Regions from separate parts of the Homo sapiens genome. Here all the other regions are linked to region 1. Evidence: fine-mapped QTL for protein levels in blood plasma. A gene starts in region 1. Each other region holds a variant in brackets. All regions are shown on one strand. Distances are between the middles of the regions.

Region 1 (2,684 bases):
CACCTGGAATCTCAGAAGGTGACTGTATTTGTAATAGGGGTCTTTGCAAATGTAATGAAGGTAAAGATCTCAAGATGAGATCATCTTGGATTAGAATGTCCTTCTCAGAGACAGAAAGGAGGGGACATACAGAGACACAGCGAGGAAGGGCGTGTAAAAATGGAGGCAGGCAGAGGCTGGAACGATGCCGTTGCATGCCCAGGAATGCCACAGGCCATCCGAAGCTGGAAGCTGCTGGGAAGTATTCGCCCCTGGAGCCTTCGGAGGAAGCATGGCCCTGCCAACTCCTTGTTTCCAGGCTTCTGACCTCCAGAACTGTGAAAGAATAAACTTCTGTTGTTTCAAATCACCTGTTTGGTGGCCATTTGTTACAGAAGCTCTGGGAAACCGACACAAATGTCCACCATTCTTCTGTTTTTTTTTTTTTGTTTTTTTTTTTTTGATGGAGTTTCACTCTTGTTGCCCAGGCTGGAGTGCAGTGGCGCGATCTCGGCTCACCACAACCTCCGCCTCCTGGGTTCAAGCAATTCTCCTGCCTCAGCCTCCCGAGTAACTGGGATTACAGGCATGTGCCACCATGCCAGGCTAATTTTGTATTTTTAGTAAAGATGGGGTTTCTCCATGTTGGTTAGGCTGGTCTCGAACTCCTGATCTCAGGTGATCTACCTGCCTCGGCCTCTCAAAGTGCTGGAATTACATGTGTAAGCCACCATGCCTGGCCCAAATGTCCACCATTATTATTCTTCATAAGAAACATAGGCATTTCAAGCCATTACCAAACTTATAGTCACTATTTATCATTATCTATTTTTCTCCATCAATGGATATGCAACTATTACTATCATGAAAAGTAAATTATATTTGCAACCCCATTATCTTCTAGATGGAGAAACAGTTTGAGAGAGGGCAGTGGAGAAGCAAGAGAGCTGGTCTGGAACCCAGCTGCCTGACTCGTGAGTCATTTCTCTTCCTCCAAAGCCCTATTAAGTCTGGGGCTGCTTATGGTCCTCACCAACTACACAAAGAAAGTCAGGGTCATGCTCATCCATCAGGAGGTTCAGGGCCACTTCCCGCTTTCCTCTGTTTGGCAACACTAAGAGTCACCCTCTGATTGTTCCAGAAAAGCAAGAATTGCTAAAGGCCATTGTGTCAAGTTTGCCCAATTCATGCTGCTTGACATCTTACCCCTCCCCACCCTGCTCCCATCCCCCCCACCCAGTGCCCCTGATTGCAACACTCCTGGCTGGGGTGGGACAGGGTGGCCAGATAAAAGCAGAGCAGGACCTGGAAAGCTGGTTTGTATGGGCTGCAGCCTGCCGCTGAGCTGCATCATGGTGCGGTCTGTGGCCTGGGCAGGTGAGCCGTCGGATAGTGGGCTGGGTCTCGGGAGCTGTGGGGAGGTGGGGATGTGGATGTTCAGGGACCACTTGCTACCATTTGCAAGGAAGCAGGAGGACTCAGGAGAACTTCAGAGGGTCATTTTATCCCTCTCCATGCCTCCTGGCTTGCAGTCCCTTGATTACCTTTCCTGTGGGCTCCCCCTTAGGCTCTTTCAGCCCAAGAGACTTCATGTTGCAAGGGAAGGCTTTTCTCAACAGGCTGAAGATGACTTGACTTTCCTCTCTCTGTCCTGAAAGCCCAGAGTCAATGAGGCCCCTGCACTGGGTCTTTGTGTCTTTCCCATGTTCTTAGGTCCCTCCTGTTGGCCTTATCCAAGAAGCGCCCACTGCCAAGAACCTCTTCTCCAACCTCATATTGTCTGTCCTGCAAGAGGGCAGCCTGGGGCCAAGATCCTGGGCATCCTTGCAAATTTTCATGGAGGTTCTATTAGGTTGACAGAGAAGTCCAAGGTCACCAGGTGAAAGAGATCTCTTCGAAGGAGTCCTGTCAGACCCTAGGTCTCCAAGGCTGTGGTTGCCTACCACAGCCAGGTAGCGGAAAGGCAACAGGAAGCCATAAACGATGGGAGCAGAGGCACAGGCCCTCCCCAGGAGATGAACTCTCTCCATGCAGCCCTTCCAGATTGATTCTTTCTAGCCCCAAAACAGGCTTGTTTCTTGTTCCGAAAGAGAAACTATCTCTCTAAATAACTCACAAGTCAGCAGTTTTTCCACAATCTTCCTGAATCCACACTGCCCTTTACTGAGGTATAGAGAGGGGGCAGCCTCAGCCCATGGAACTTTCCATCAGCTTCTAGGACCAACCCAGGCCAGGAAGAGACCCCCGTGGTCTGGTCTGCATGAAGGGATGGGCACAGTGCCCTCCTGGGTCCCTTCTGAAAGGAGAAAGCTTGATTTGTATGAAATCAGCCCTCCCTGACCACCTCCTGTGCTTCCGTAAGCTGTGGGGCCTGGGAAGGTGAGAATGGCAGCATAACCCTGGCCTTCTCTCTTGTGTTGCTCCAGGTTTCATGGTCCTGCTGATGATCCCATGGGGTAAGTAGCCTCTTTCTTGGCTGCCTCAGCCCCTTCCCTGGGCTCTGCTTAATGTCCCAAAACACCTTCCCTGCCAGACCTCCCCAAGAGCTCCAGATTTCAGTGGGGACTCTCTTCCAAAGCTCAGACCCCTGCAAATGTCCCCATCTGCTACCAGCCCTCCCAGGAAGGCTCTTGCCTCCTTATCCATTAGCTGAGCTCCTGCACATCTGTGGGGCCAGCTTGCGCATCAGCCTCTTTCAGGGCTTT
Region 2 (2,684 bases), 40 kb after region 1:
TGGGAATAATTTGCATCTGGAGATAAGCCAAGAATAATAGGTTATCCTGAGTGGTTTAAGACACCAAAATAATAAGCCTTGGCTATTTCCCATAAATTTGGATTCCCAGCTGGGTGTGGTTGCACACGCCATTGATCCCAACACTTTGGGAGGCTGAGGCAGGAGGATGGCTTGAGCCCAGAAGGTCGAAGCTGCAGTGAGCCCAGATCACGCCACTGCACTCCAGCCTGGGTGACAGAGTGAGACTCTGTCTCAAAAAGAAAAAAAATTCCCCGAAAAAAACAATTTCATCCCTGATTTTTGCTATGCTGATAAGTGAAGATGTGTTGTAAAAATGATGCTGATCTCCACCAAACGTGATAACCTTGGGTCATTTTTTTTTCCCCTTCAAATACTTGTTGCATTTTGCATTTGACGAGCCAGCCATTCTGAAATCTGACTCGCTTCCGCTTTTCACAAGCAACTGTTTTCTTCTCTAAGTGTTTCTGCCTCTGAGTCTTCGACAGCTTCTACTGTGCGCCAGCACCACCACCGAGCTGAGGATTTGGAGATGATTTGAATTCCTGCCTGGCAGAAGTCCACCCTCTGGAGGAAGAGACTACTTGTAAAAGAGAGAATTCTCCTCAAGCATTTGGTGGGGCATCAACACCACCTCTGTTTGCTCTGACACGCCATGCAAAATGAAGGAATCCTCAAAACCACTGTGCCCAAGGGGCCAGCCCAGGCTCCCAGGAGCTTGTTTTCTGAATGGTGGTAATGTCCACCCTCTGGCTCCTGATCCAGACTCATCTTGTGCCTCCCTCGAGCTCCCTCCTGCTAATTCCATGCCTCAACCACTCTTGAATTCTTCTGGTTCCTGAACATAACAACCTCTTCCTGCTCCAGGTTTTTGCACAATTTTTTTTGTGTGTAGGGGACGGTGGGCAAGGGGCAGACTAACACCTGCCCTTCCTTCGTAATACATTACTTGCTTTTCTTTGTTTAATGTCCATCTTCTTTGCCAGACTGTATGCTTCATGAGGACAGGGACTGCCTCTCTGTTCCCATTCACCTTTCTGTCTCTACTGTCTACCTCAGTGGAAGGCAACTACTCTAGTACACTTACTTAATAAACATTGGTTGAACACTATCAATGTACTGTGGGGCCTAGAAATGTTTGATTAGGGAAATTAAGTCAGGAAGCTTGTTTTGTGGTTTTATGGCACCTCCTGAGTCAGTTCTTCACAGGGTAACAAAAACTATTGAATGAGATGAAATTTTGAGAACATCAGGGTTTAAACTCATAAGAGTGTGAAGTTATGCACCATTTTGAGATCATTTGTTCATTTATTCAACGAGTACTTTACTGAGCATCTACTATGTCTCAAGCACTGGGGATAGATACAAAGGTGGATAAAATGACCCAGCCGTTGCCTTTACTGAGTTTATAGTCTAGTGAGAGAGGCAAACAAAACATCCACTGCCACACACAACATATAAAATTATAACTGAGTCAGGTGTTAAGGAGAGAGGTACAAAGTGCTCTGACAGCCCTATAG[C/T]GGGTTTTCTGTCACCTGGAGACTGCCTTTTCTGCAGACAAGGTGACTCCTGAGCTGCAATCTGAAGGATGAGGAAGAATAAAGCAGTCAAAGAAGAGCAGTGTTAGGCTGCAATTCTCCATCCGCAATTCTCCAACCGCAATTCTCCATGGGTTGCCTGCATTTCCTGCACAGCTTATGTGCAGAGGCACTGGCTTCTTTGTTCTAGGCAATCTTTTTAGTGATGTTTGTACAGCAAACAGCCTTGGAAGATAGAAATAGCGTCCCCCCTCCAGACCAAAAGGCAGATTTGTTTACTGTCCAGTAATAAAGATAATGTCTCCCTTATCTTGGGCTGGCCAAGGTGAGGAAGGCTTACTGCTCATCATGAAAGATTTGAGTTCCTTAAACTAGGGATTCCTCTGCTGTGATGTAACTCATTGCATTCATGGCATCTACCTGGGCTCCTCCAACACTGCCCTTGTGAGACCTGAGGGCTAAGGGGAACTGACCCTAACATGAAGTTCATGCTGCTTGCTGTACCATGGATAATAAAGTCCTTTGTCTCTGACCTAGGAGTCTCGTGTCTTCTGCCAACATCCACGAAACTGTAGTTATGTCATTAATTTGCAAGTAGCATAAAATCTCAGATCTTTCATCGTTATTTACAGGCAAGTGGATGTCATATATAAAGGCCCTGTGGCGGGAGTCAGTAGAGCAAATATAAGGATTTAAAAGAAGACATATAAGCATGAGTGGAATATAGGGAGGGTGGGGGTCATGGCCTGAGATAAGGCTGGGAGGTGGTGAGCCTATGAGACCCTTGGCCAATCCTGCTAACACAGGCCTGGGGGTATCTTGGCCATTTGTTGTTACAAAGCTGCCTTCAGGCAGAGCATGTGGAATTAATAAACTGAGCTTGAGGGAGCATAGGACAACAAGGCTTGGGCCAATCTAAGCCTATGAAATAATTTTTAACAAAGGGAGATAGTGAAAATAGGAGGTGTTTTCTTAACATCCTGTGCTCTGTGATGAAAAATTTTGCATCTGCATGCCACTTCATAATATCACTATTAGAAATTAGAAGTCCTCCTCTCAGTGCCCCAAATGAACCAGAAGAAGCTATCATTGACTGTCATTGCTGTCAATCATCTTGGGTACAAAAGG
Region 3 (2,684 bases), 18 kb after region 1:
TGTTTCCCTTGGGTTACACAAGCAGTATGTGGCAAAGCTGCAATTAATTAGCTGATTAATTAATTATTGAGACAGAGTCACTCTGTCACCCAGGCTGGAGTGCAGTGGTGCAATCTTGGCTCACTGCAGCCTCCGTCTCCTGGGTTCAAGTGATTCTCGTCCCTCAGCCTCCCAAGTAGCTGGGATTAAAGGCGCATGTCACCACACCCAGCTAAATTTTTTGGTATTTTTAGTAGAGATGGGGTTTCACTATGTTGGCCAGGCTGGTCTCGAACTCCTGACCTCAAGTGATCTGCCCACCTCAGCTTCCCAAAGTGCTGGGATTACAGGCGTGAGCCACCACGCCTGGCCTAAAACTGCAATTTAGATGCCAGTCTAGATGAGACCCAGAGCCCAGGTTTGCTTTCTAGAACACTGCTGTCTTTCCTCCCCCAGGTTAAAATCATATGTATTTCTTTTATCTCCTTACCCTGCTATTTGGTGTCTAGACCTCAGAGGTTATGAGTATTGGGCACTTCTTCTGTGTCCAGCCATACACTAATATTCAGGTCCATTTATCTCTGCTGTCAATCCCATGGGATCACAGGTGCAGAAACCACGGTGTCCAAGTCAAGCCGGCAGTGGAGTCAGGGCCTGACCCAGGCCCACCCATGTCTTTGGTTGCTCTCCCCAGTGCACCCTCCTTCATGCCTCAGCTCTTGTCCTCTACAATATCTGATTTTATGGTTTACCTAAGTATGAAATCTTAATGATGCTTAAAACAATAAGCATTGCCTGAGCACTTGCCATGTGGCAGGAGCTGTGCTAGGGCCTAAGGGAAATGCAGAAATGAACCCTGCCCTCATGGTGTTTCCAGCTGGTGGGACTGTTGGTGGGGGGTCTCCAGGATCAGCTTAGCACCAAGGGTCAAAAGATCAACCCAGTTGGTGCAGTGGCTCACGCCTGTAATCCCAGCACTTTGGGAGGCTGAGGCGGGCAGATCACGAGGTCAGGAGTTCAAGATCAGCCTTACCAACATGGTGAAACCTTGTCTCTACTAAAAACACAAAAATTAGCTGGGCATGGTGGCAGGCACCTGTAATCCCAGCTACTCAGGAAGCTGAGGCAGGAGAATCGCTTGAAACCGGGAGGCGGAGGTTGCAGTGAGCCGAGACTGCACCACTGCACGCTCCAGCCTGGGTGATAGAGTGAGACTCCATCTCAAAAACAAAACAAAACAAAACAAAAAATCAACCCAGAGAGAAGGTACAGGTACTTCATGACTGATGCTGTTT[G/A]GAGCTGCAGGCTCATGGGGATAATAAAAAACAGGCCAAGCCTGGCTTTATCCTTGTTTTTTAAAAATTCTCTGCATACAAGCCATTCTTATTGCCTCCACCTAGGGTGAACTTCTTGCTCTCATTGCCCAAGACAATCTGACATATGAAGTTTGAGCATCTACTGCAAAGCAAATACCACTTTTTATAACAAGACTTTCTCTCTGTTCCCACCAGACTGCCCTGTCAGCCCCACACACCTTAATTATAAACTAGGTCATGTAAGCTTGCATGGCCTTTGAAGACAGGCACAAATACTGCTTGAACTGTTACAGTGTGTTTGACATTGAGCAATACAGTTTGAAAGGAATTTGGGGCTATTTACTTTTTGGTGGCTTAACCCACTAATGTCTGGCCACCTTCCTTAACAGTGATGACCACTCTTCACCCATAAAGAAGAGGCCCCTGTATTCTTCTCTCTCATAGCATTCATTGTTACATCTGACACACCTGCTGGAACCCCAGACAAATTTGGCTCCCCCCTTGGCTGGTCAGATCGGGGACCAAACTGTCCATCACACCCTACCTGGAGCAGTGAGAGCTGAAACTCTTTATCATTTTAATTTTGTCTCCATTGTAAAATATACCACATTATACCAAATAGTGTTCAAAACATATATGTTCAGGAACTCTTATGAATCCCTCACCCAGGTAAGGAAACAACATTAGCAGCCTCTGATGAACAGTGACTGATGTGCCCCTCCCTAATCCCATAGCCCTCTAACTAGATTTTGGTTATTCCTTTTCTTGTTTTTCTTGTAGTTTTACCAGCTAGGTGTGCATTTTTAAATAAAATTGTTTAGTTTGCACTAGTTTTGAAACTTACATAAATGGAATCACACTGTATGGTATCTTCTGTGGCCCAATGCTCCACATGACTGTAACTCATTTTCACTACTGTATAGTATTCCATCATAAGAGTATGCCATGACTTACATATTTCACTGTCAACAGGCATTTGGGTTGTTTCTAGATTGTGGCCAATGTGGACAATATTGCTATAAACACTCTTGAGGATGTCTCCTAGTGCATATGTGTAGAATATGCCTAGGAGTAGAATTAATGGGATGTGAATTATGTGCTTGTTCAATTTTACCAGGTGCAGGCAACGTGTTTTCCCAAAGCGGTTGTGTAACTTTTCCCTCCCGTCAGCAGAATTCTCTTGTATCCCATCCTCACCATTACCATATCATACTTTATACCAGTTTGAGAGATGTAAAATGGTATCCCGTTAGAGTTTCAACTTGCATTGTCCTAATTACTCATTATAGTTTCAGCATCTTTTCCTATACCTATAAGCAATATGTGTTTGTCTTTTGTGAATAGTCCAATGTGTCTCTTGTCATTTTTCTATTGGGTTGTTTATATCTT
Region 4 (2,684 bases), 14 kb after region 1:
CAGGCTTTCTGCTCTCAGCCTTGCCTTCCTTTTTTCTGGGTCTCCTGGGCTGCCCCTTTCACTTGCAAAATAAATCTTTGGTTTGTGCCCCTCTTCCCAAAGATGTGGTGACTTAAGAGGCTCTCTAAGCACACTGTTGACTCCAAAACATCCGCAGGTCAGAGCCAGGTGGGAAGGTGGTCCGTGCAGGATGTGCCAGGCCCTGTGGCAGGTCTTGCCCCATGAGTCCATATGCCAGTGGGCAGTTTCCAGTACACAGGTGATGGCAGCCAGAGCGCGGCCCCAAGTGCAACACGTTCTTTGGTTATTGGCTCAGAAGCCTGGAAACAGGAGCTTCTGCGGACCTTCACGCACGTGTTATTCCCAAAATGCCACTAGATGGCAGCAGAGAAGAACTTTTCCCTGATTTAAGCGCTCTGCGAGCAGCCACTCAGCATTACACTAAGAATTCAGACCCCTGGTACTCAGGGGTCTTCGAGATAAATCCTGTTTGGGCCCTTTGCAGGCCCTATCTCACCTACTGCCCCCGTTCACCAGATGAAGAAGGAACAATGATTATTCTCACTTTATAGGCATTTAAACTGAAGACTGATTCTAACCAATTCTGAGTCCAGAACCAAGGCCTGAAATGGGCCAGAGAGCATGCACACGGTGTCCTGGTTAAATAAAGTCATCCCAACATTCCTGGCTGCTTTGGGCTGCACCTTGGTCATTCTGTTTGAAGAAAATCTGCACAAAGCCTAATGGTCCAGCCTGTTATTCACTCCAAGCTGGTTTCTGGTTGGGACTTGGGAAGGCAGCTGGGGACTGGGACAGGTGAGATGAGGGGGAGGCAGCTTGGCCCCCCATGTGAGTCAACCCAGCACCAGAGCGCAGGAACAGTGTCCCCGTCACTCCGGCAGCCTGCCTGTCCATGGGCATTTTGAAACCTGCTCTCCTCAGTCCAGAGCACAAGCTGCTTGAGCACGTGCTCCGCCCCCTGAGGTCTCAATTGAGGGATACACCAACCACATCCCAACGAGCTGTTAGGAGTGGAGTCCAGGTGCAGGGGTGACTTCTGGCGTGCTGCACTCCAGCTGTGTGACTTCAGGCAAAGAAGCAGAGCCTCAGTCCTCTGCTGTAGG[A/G]TGGAAGAAATGTGAGGAGTCAGTGAAGTCGTGCACGCCTGCCCTATGATCAGTGCTCATTCCCTCCCTCCCTCTTCCCTTCTCAGCCCTTTCTTCAACTTCTGTGAGCTGGGTTTGTCAAGGATTTAGCAAAAACTGTAGTCTCCTTTTAGCAGAATGCGCCCTCCTACAAGCATCCAAATAACCAAAGTCCTCCCTGAGTACGCAGTCTTACACCTGCACTACTGTTACCCTCAGGAAAGCATTAGCCACAGCCTCTCTCTGGTCTTCACATCCACCCTGCTCCTCTACAAACTCATGGCCACTCCCTCAGCTAGAACCAGCATCATCTCATATCTGGACCCACCTTCTATCTGGCCTCCCTGCTTCCTGCCCACCCCCTCTTCCAGTCAGCCACCACATCGCAACCAGTTTAATCTTTCTAAAATAGAGATCTAAGCCTGTCAGTTCCCCTGCTTAAAAACTAAGCAAGGGAAGTGACAGGCTTCCCCTGCCCAAAGGAGAAAGTCCCCACCCATCAGCACAGGGTTGAGACACTTTATCAGGCCCTCGTGTCTTCTCCGGTCACTTCTCCTGCCGTCCCCACCCCAGTTCAGTTGCTGGGTACCCCTGATGTCAGCATTAACCTCAACCATCATGCCAGCTCCTCATGTGGGACTCCCACAGCCCTCTGTCACCCGGCTAGCTCAGGCCCACGCCATTTTCTGAATGAATCCTGTCTAGGACAGAAACAATGAGAGTTCTCGAAAAGCTATTTGTGTTCAGATTATCTCTTTTTGTTTGTTTTTGTTTTGTTTTGTTTTTTGTTTGTTTGTTTGGTTTTTGTTTTTTGGGTTTTGGTTTTTTTCTTTTTTTTTGAGACAGAGTCTCGCTCTGTTGCCCAGGTTGGAGTGCAGTGGCGTGATCTCGGCTTACTACAACCTCCACCTCCTGGGCTCAAGCGATTCTCCTGCTTCAGCCTCCCGAGGAGCTGGGACTACAGGCACCTGCCACCACACCAGGCTAATTTTTGTATTTTTAGTAGAGACGGGGTTGCTGTTGTTTGCTTGAGACAAGGTCTCTCTCTGTCACCCAGGCTGGAGTGCAGAGGCACGATCACAGCTCACTGCAGCCTTGACCTCCTGGGCTCAGCTGATCCTCCCACCTCAGCCTCCCAGGTAGCTGGGACTACAGGTACACACCACCATGCCCTGCTAAATTTTGTATTTTATGTAGAGGCAGGGTTTTGTCATGTTACACAGGCTGGTCTCCAACTCCTGGGCTCAAGTGATCCTCCTGCCTTGGCCTCCCAAACTGTTGGGATTACAGGTGTAAGCCATTGTTCCCAGCCAGATTGTCTCCTTTGACTCCACCTTGGCCTTGAAGCCCCATGTGGCTGGAGTCTTCCTGCTGCTGCTGAGTTTCTCAGCACACACCAAGTGTCCATGCAGGCCTGGTGTCCAGCTGGACACAGCAGGGACAAGAGCCGGGGCTTTACTTTCCTGAGGCTAACATTCTGTTGGGGGAGGCAGACAGTGAACAAACGTGCACATAAGACCTTTCCAGGCAATAATGAGTGCT

Direction of the effects. Alleles are on the strand shown, and positions count from the first base shown. The strength of an association depends on the size of the effect and on how common the allele is.
As copies of T replace C in region 2, the plasma level of the protein whose gene starts at base 1,295 in region 1 goes down (weak association).
For the plasma level of the protein whose gene starts at base 1,295 in region 1, A is the low allele of the variant in region 3 and G is the other (moderate association).
For the plasma level of the protein whose gene starts at base 1,295 in region 1, G is the low allele of the variant in region 4 and A is the other (strong association).

The links. PIP is the posterior inclusion probability: the model's chance that the variant is causal. The UK Biobank Pharma Proteomics Project read protein levels with antibody pairs (Olink). The fine-mapping took linkage between variants from a reference panel, not from the people measured, so its PIPs are less certain.
Region 2: its variant is fine-mapped to the plasma level of the CHIT1 protein (UK Biobank, PIP above 0.99).
Region 3: its variant is fine-mapped to the plasma level of the CHIT1 protein (UK Biobank, PIP above 0.99).
Region 4: its variant is fine-mapped to the plasma level of the CHIT1 protein (UK Biobank, PIP above 0.99).

Annotation. Positions count from the first base shown.
Region 1 is chr1:203,228,284-203,230,967 of GRCh38, reverse strand. CHIT1 (chitinase 1) reads left to right here and starts at 1,295. Exons shown (of 11, transcript NM_003465.3): 1 at 1,295-1,356; 2 at 2,406-2,435. The coding sequence starts at 1,332.
Region 2 is chr1:203,188,041-203,190,724 of GRCh38, reverse strand. No RefSeq gene overlaps it. Among named protein-coding and RNA genes, the nearest start is that of CHI3L1, 2.7 kb to the right of the region's middle. The variant C/T (reference allele first, on the strand shown) is at 1,539.
Region 3 is chr1:203,210,080-203,212,763 of GRCh38, reverse strand. No RefSeq gene overlaps it. Among named protein-coding and RNA genes, the nearest start is that of CHIT1, 18 kb to the left of the region's middle. The variant G/A (reference allele first, on the strand shown) is at 1,275.
Region 4 is chr1:203,214,079-203,216,762 of GRCh38, reverse strand. It overlaps CHIT1 (chitinase 1), which reads left to right. Exons shown (of 11, transcript NM_003465.3): 11 at 1-684. Among named protein-coding and RNA genes, the nearest start is that of CHIT1, 14 kb to the left of the region's middle. RefSeq lists enhancers at 1-674, 675-1,431. The variant A/G (reference allele first, on the strand shown) is at 1,125.